Linked DNA regions of Homo sapiens. The protein of the gene in region 1 purifies or fractionates together with the protein of each later gene. This does not show direct contact. Each region holds a gene or a part of one and is shown on either strand. Other genes may lie near its edges.

Evidence for each region.
Region 2: the proteins of DUSP11 (region 1) and MRPL13 purify together in Homo sapiens (affinity purification with mass spectrometry, with the first as the bait; one large-scale study listed by BioGRID). This does not show direct contact.

Annotation. Positions count from the first base shown.
Region 1 is NC_000002.12:73,773,332-73,777,157, reverse strand, and holds part of DUSP11 (RNA/RNP complex-1-interacting phosphatase), read left to right. Parts: intron 1-2,113; coding exon 2,114-2,245; intron 2,246-3,234; coding exon 3,235-3,358; intron 3,359-3,826. UniProt on the Homo sapiens protein: Possesses RNA 5'-triphosphatase and diphosphatase activities, but displays a poor protein-tyrosine phosphatase activity. In addition, has phosphatase activity with ATP, ADP and O-methylfluorescein phosphate (in vitro). Binds to RNA.
Region 2 is NC_000008.11:120,410,325-120,414,150, reverse strand, and holds part of MRPL13 (large ribosomal subunit protein uL13m), read left to right. Parts: intron 1-38; coding exon 39-160; intron 161-3,826.

The DNA.
Region 1 (3,826 bases):
AATACAAAAATTAACCAGGCGCGGTGGCGTGTGCTTGTAGTCTCAGCTGCTCAGGAGGCTGAAGTGGGAGGATCGATTGAACCCAGGAGGTCAAGGCTGCAGTGAGCCATGATCATGCCACTGTACTCCAGCCTGGGCAACAGAGCAAGACCCTGTCTCCAAAAAGAAGGTGTTGGAGACACAGGGAATTTTTAGGGAAGTGAAACTATTCTGTGTGATACTCTAAGGGTGGATACATGTTATATATTGATCAAAACCTATAAAAGGGCTTCACGTATATTAACACATTTCACAACAATCCTGTGCTGATGAAGTAGCAGTAGTACTAATATCTCTTACTGAGTGCTTATTCTGCACTAAGCTCAGAGAATAGATGGTTACATCTAATAAATAATTTTGTAGATAATCAAACAGGCTCAGAAAAGGAAGAATCAAAACTTGAACTTAGTTCTTTCTCTCATTTTTTTTGTGGCAAAATATATATAACATAATATGTACATACAATGCATAACATAGAATGAATCACGCATACCTAACCTCTAGACTTTGGTGATAACGATGTGTCAGAGTTGGTTCTTCATTTGTAACAAATGGACCACACTGGTATGGAATGTGGATAGTGGGGGAGTCTGGGTGGGTTGGGGAAGGCAAAGTACATGTGGGAACTATCTGTCCTTTTGGCTCAGTTTTGCTGTGAACCTAAAACTGCTCTGAAAACTAGTCTATTTTTTTTTTTTTTTTTTTGAGATGGTGTCTCGCTTGTCGCCCAGGCTGGAGTGCAGTGGTGTGATCTTGGTTCACTGCAAGCTCTGCCTCCTGGGTTCACGCCATTCTCCTGCCTCTGCCTCCTGAGTAGCTGGAACTACCGGCGCCTGCCACCACGCCTGGCTAATTTTTTTGTGTTTTTAGTAGAGATGGGGTTTCACCGTGTTAGCCAGGATGGTCTCGATCTCCTGACCTCGTGATCCTCCTGCCTCGGCCTCCCAAAGTGCTGGGATTACAGGCTTGAGCCACCGCACCCAGCCAAACTAGTCTATTTTTTAAAAAGTACATTGCTGGCACCTGAGTAGCCAGACAGATTGAAGGAACAGAGCATAAAGTTCAAAAATAAGCCACATACATAAAAGAATATTCAGCAATGAAAGCCATCCTTCATATATGTAGACATGTGAGAAATATTTATTTGTGAGGCCGAGACAGGAGGGTTGCTTGAGCTCAGGAGTTTGAGATCAGCCTGGGCTACATGGCAAGACGGCAAGACCCTATCTCTTTTTTTTTTTTTTTTTTTTTTTTAAATTTTTTTTTTGAGATGGAGTCACTCTGTCACCCAGGCTGGAGTGCAGTGGTGTGATCTCGGCTCACTGCAAGCTCTGCCTCCCGGGTTCACGCCATTCTCCTGCCTCAGCCTCCCGGTAGCTGGGACTACAGGCGCCTGCCACCACCCCTGGCTAATTTTTTGTATTTTTAGTAGAGACGGGGTTTCACAGTGTTAGCCAGGATGGTCTCGATCTCCTGACCTTGTGATCCTCCCGCCTTGGCCTCCCAAAGTGCTGGGATTACAGGTGTGAACCACTGCGCCCAGCTGACCCTATCTCTTTAAAAAAAAAAAAAAAAGGCCAGGTGTGGTGGTTCATGCCTGTAGTCCCAGCTACTTGTGAGGTTGAGGTGGGAGTATTGCTTGAGCCCAGGAGGTGGAGGCTGCAGTGAGCCATGTTTGTGTCACTGCACTCCAGCCTGGATGACGGATGACAGAGCAACACCCTGTTTCAAAAAAAAAAAAAAAAAAAGAAAAGAAATATTTATAAGCACTAAATATGATAAGCACTCCACCTGGAGCTGGAGATACAGTGGTGAATAAAATCTGGGAGATTACAGTCTGATTAGGAGACCAACATGAAACAAATACAGAAATACATATATAGAAGTGGGCTTATTTTTTTCTTTCTGACCACTCTGGAAGAAAGGATTGTTGTAATATACCTTCTATGTTCCAGGAGAATGGAAACTTTCCTTTGAATCTCGTTGTATGTTAGCATCACAGGACTTGAATAAATGCCTAATGTAGTACAGGATTTTAAGCACATATTTGCTCTTATTTCATTCTCTGTGACAGAGTTTTGAAAAGAAACTTGCTCCAGAAGAATGCTTTTCCCCTTTGGATCTTTTTAACAAAATCCGAGAACAAAATGAAGAACTTGGACTGATTATTGATTTAACATATACTCAACGCTATTATAAACCAGAGGTAAGTGGAACCCTTCAATGAAAAGAACTTTCTTCCTTCTGATCCTAAAATAATTTATAGTAATTCAGTAATCATCTTGTGCTAATGTGAAGCTTGGCCTTCTTTGATGGGTAGTAAGTTTAAAAGAGAACCAAGTGATTTCTCTAATTACATGTTTTTAATTGCTGTCTTAAATGGAATATTATTCAGCCATAAAAAAGAATAGATTTAATACGTGCTACAATATGGATGAACCTTAAAAACATGCTTAGTGAAATAAACCAGACACAGAAGGACAAATATATGATTCCACTTGTATGAAGTACCTAGAATAGACAAATTCACAGAGACAGAAAGCAGACTAAAGGATCTATGAGGTGGGGAGAAAAGGGAATTATGGTTTAGTGGTCAGAGTCTTTTTGTCGGGGATGATGAAAAAGTTTTGGGTATAGACAGTGGTGATGGTTACACAATACTGTGAATGTAATGCCACTGAACTATACACTTGTGGATGGTTAAAATGATTTTGACTTAGCCTCTTCTGTCTTTTATCTGTATCTACTTTTCTCCCACCCCAAGAATATCGGTTCTCAATAGTGCCTGGAATTCCCTCTATCTCACAATTCAAATCCAAGTTCTTCTGACTCTATTCTCTACTCTTCTACTTAAATCATAGCTGCTTTATGAAGGCACTGGCCCTTGAATTATAAAATATTAAATGGAACTGTTTATATAATTTATAGTTAAATATGCATTCATTCACATGGAATTTGCTTTCAGTTTTGTATACCTAGTGACTATCTATTATGTAGTTTTATTGAAAATCAAGTGATACTTCCTGGTTGAAGCAGTGTTGGAAAAAATGGCTCTTTTATCAGAATTGTGTATACTGATATTGGCATATTAAGTTTGTTATAATCTCTTGGCTTATATTCTGGGTCCCCTAATTACTCTTTAATTATTTCTCTACAAGTGAAATAATACACATCTTTTATGGTTTTGCTTTATAGGATTTGCCAGAAACTGTTCCTTACTTAAAAATTTTTACAGTTGGACATCAAGTGCCTGATGATGAGACTATTTTTAAATTCAAACACGCTGTTAATGGGTTTTTGAAAGAAAATAAAGATAATGGTGAGTTTTTGTTCTTACCTGAACTGTGGTGTGCATTATGAATGGGGTTGGGGATTTTTGGTATTTTTTTATAGTTCCAACCTCAGACCTGTTGTATTTAATGATGCTAAGGTGATGAAAATGTCAGATGGTGCTAATAGGGTAAGATGTTTTTCCTTTTGTTGATCACAAATAATTTAACTTTGGAATGTTAAATTAGTTTTAGTGCAAAATATGAACTGAACTGGCTCATCTTTCTTTTTTAATTTGAATGAGAAATATATAAAATTAAAATGTTATTTTTGTCTTCTATATTGGTTAAGAAGTGAGAAGTAGAAGAAAAGATTAAAAAACTCTGAGTCTTAGAGTTATGTGAAAGAGACAAGAAAGGGCAAAGATTAAGAATGGGACGGACCCCTAGAAGCAAAACAAGAAAGAGTGCACCAGTGGAATTGCCCCTTTGTCATATGTATTTAAGACACATGTATA
Region 2 (3,826 bases), on another chromosome or scaffold:
TTTTAAGAAAATTAAGTCTAAATTTTTTTTTAATGTAGTATATTCCAGAAGATATTCTTAAGAATTTAGTAGAGGAGCTTCCTCAACCACGAAAAATACCTAAACGTCTAGATGAGTACACACAAGAAGAAATAGACGCCTTCCCAAGATTGTGGACTCCGTAAGTGTTTCCCTTCTTCTTGTTTTTTTTTCTTTTGATATCCTCTGTTTCCTCAACCATATGATTAAATAAGATCCTTGAGGGCGGGAAGAGTGAACTCATTTTTTTGCTCCCCTGGGAACTCAGCAGCTACTACCTACAAATAAACTCTAGATGTAGGTATTAGAACCAAAAATTTTTAAGCATTAAGACCTTGCTAGATAAGTGCGAGGATGTTCATAGGTTCCTATAATTATCAAGTATTTTGTTTGGGCTGATGGTAGTCTTTAGGAATGATATATGAATTGTTATTAATCTAAAACGTAATGATTCTCAGTTTTCCACATTGTTTCATAAGTTAAAAATATTATCTAATGAAAAGTCATTAATTTTGGATACTTGTTGTCTTGGTCCAAAAAGAAAAACAAAATAAAAAAATACTTTTTGCTCTCCTCTGTACAGTTTCCTCTACCTAAGGCCGTAAAGCTGCTAAGATGTAACATTCTTTCTCCCATCTAGTTGTTTCTAGGCTTTTTTGCCAGGGCTATCCAGATGATGAAGCATTTAAGTGTAACTTCCTCAGGCAGTCCTTCCTGTAATCTTTGAACCGGGTTAGGCTCTCATTATGGGTTCTCATCGTACACTTCCATTTACTGATTTACTCTAATTATATATTTGTGTGATTATCTGTTTACTATCTGTCTTTCTTGCTAGACTTCATGAGGGAGCTACATGTTTGTCTTATTTAGCACTGAGCATGGTGCTGGACAAATTAAATAGACACTCAGCCAGTATTTATTGAATAAATTAATTAAGACTTTTATCAGCTTTTATAAGTGACTTTAGGAAAGAATCTCTAGAAAATATGAAGCAAAGACCACTTTTCATTTTTTTCACAGCATTTATCACTATCTACTGTACTCTCATTTATATGTGTGTCTGTTATTTGTCTCTCTACACTCATGGCAATAATAAAAATAGCAAGCACTAATAAAGCATTTATTGTGTGCTTTACATGTATTAATCTACTAATCCTCAGAGCAATCTAGTGAGTCAGTACAATTTTTATTTTTATTTTTATTTTTTAAATGAGAAAATATGGGCACAGAGAGATAAAGCAACTTGACTAATATCACATAGTTATAAATGGTATATTAAGGATTCAAGCCTGAGTGACTAGCTGCTGGGTCATGCTCCTAACTCTGCTGGAATGCCCCTTCTTGCATTGGCATGTCAGCTTCAAGGGGGCAGGGACATTGTCTGGTTCAACATTTACATCTTAGAAATACTTAGAAACCCTTAGAAATAGTACTTGGTGCATAATGGGCACTCAGTAAGTGTTTTGGAAAGAATGAAGACATGAGCTCTTTCCCTAAAAATTAATTGTGAAATTTTCATGAATAGCTTAAGTTTTAGAAAAATCCAAACCAAGGTTCAAATCTTGCCTCTATAGTAGCTGACTCTATAACCTTAAGTAAGTCATCTTTCATTTTGAGCCTTAGTTTCTTCATCTCAACTCAGTTTCTTCAGTTGTAAATTAGAGCCACTCCATACTTCTGAGAATTGCTGGAAGGAGTAAGTGAGCAACTTAGCACACTTGAAGTGTTGACTAAGTTTTTAATAGGAGAATTTTTTTGCTATTGCAAATTCTATACCATTTTAACATGCTTGCTAGTGTAGAGTTTTATTGTAAATGTACTTAAGTTGATGTAGTTTGAAAATATTCAGCTTTGATAAGTTATATACTAAAAACATTTTAAGTTGTCCTTGAAGTTTTGACAGGTTACCTTCCTATAACAGTTCTGTAAATATGTATCTGATTTTCTTACAGAAACACCATCATAAATGAATTTATATTCCTGACCAAGAGGGGTGTGGTACTCTTTTTTTTAAAATTAGAAATAATAAAGTTGCTGTTAAATCATGTATGTGCAAATACATATTATACACTTGAAGTCATATTTCATGAATATTCTAAAGTGTATTCTAAATCAGTTAAACTGGCACCACACTAATATAATAATTCACAAATTATATTTAGTGTTATTATAGTCAGAGTACTGACCAAAATTTTCATTCTGCTGAATGATTTCTGCTTTCTTTTGAAACAAATTAGAAAGTGCCTGAGTGCCTTCATTTTATTAATAGAATTAGAAAGGGCTTTTCTATAGCTATTTTTAAGGAGATTTTTAGAGAAACTTAGAGCCACTAGATGCATTTTTTAGTTACTACTCTGGGAATAGATTTTCCTGCCCTCTCTCTTCATTCCAGATTTCCCTGAGGCAGGAATATGCATTAGACACTAGGTTTTCCTTTATGCTTTATTAAGGTTGTGATTTTTTCCTCATAAATAGTCACACGCATATGTTAACTTGTATTTTCAAAATAGTAAAATAGGTATACGTTTACTGAAACGTATGGATAGTATAGGTGTACTAGTCATTTAATATAAATCATTCTGTATTTCTTTCTCCCTGCACATTTGAGCTGACATCAAGTCCAGTTAGTCTTTATTACGTGAAAAGTGTGTGACCAGGAAAAATATAGTCATTTTTGGATTAACCAAAAGCTTATCTAAGAAATAGATGATCATTTACTTCAAGGCTCTTGAGTAGAACTTTCTACAATGATGAAAACAACTCTCAGCCAGGCATGGTGGCTCATGCCTATAATCCTAGCACTTTGGGAGGCCAAGGCAGGAGTACCTCTTGAGTTCAGGAGTTCAAGACCGGCCTGGGCAAGATGGCAAGACCCTGTCTCTACAAAAACAAAAAACAAAAAAATTAGCCAGGTGTGTTAGCACACACCTGTAGTCCCAGCTACTTGGTAGTCTGAGGCAGGAGGATCTCTTGAGCCCAGGAGTTTGCAGCTGCAGTGAGCCATGATCATGCCACTGCACTCCAGCCTGAACAACAGAGCAAGACTTGTCGAGAGAAGGGGAGGGAGAGGGAGTGGGAGAGGGAGGAGAGGGAGAGGGAAGCCTGGCGCGGTGGATCACCTAAGGTTGGTAGTTCAAGACCAGCCTGGCCAACATGGTGAAACCCCATCTCTAATAAAAATACAAAAAAAACTAGCCGGATATGGTGGTGGGCACCTGTAATCCCAGCTACTCTGGAGGCTGAGGCAGGAGAATTGCTTGAACCCGGGAGGCGGAGGTTGCCGAGATCGCACCATTGCACTCCAGCCTGCGTGACAAGAGCAAAACTCCATCTCAAAAAAAAAAGAGAGAGAAAGGAAGGAAGGAGGGAGGGATGGAGGGAGGGAGGTAACTCTCTATTCGAGCTTCAAATACATTAGCTACTGTTGACGTGTGGCTCTTGAGCCCTTGCACTGTGGCTAATGTGACTAAGGAACTGAATTTTTTATTTGATGTAATTTTAGTAAATAAAATTACGTGTTAGTGAATAAAATTACGCTACCTTCATATGGCTAGTGTCTACATTATTGGACTATGCTATTTTAGTTATTGGACTATGCCATTTTATAAAGTTCTATTAAATATTATATACTTTAGAATTAGAATTAAAATATTTGATATGCCATGCAGTTCAATTCATGGAACATGAGGTTTTTATTATTAAAGGATTGCCTTTATTAGAAAAAAATTTTTTTCTCCTTTTGGAGAGGACCTTGCTTAAGATATGCTTTTGTTCTACCCAACATAGCTAAGCCAAGAATATAATTTTC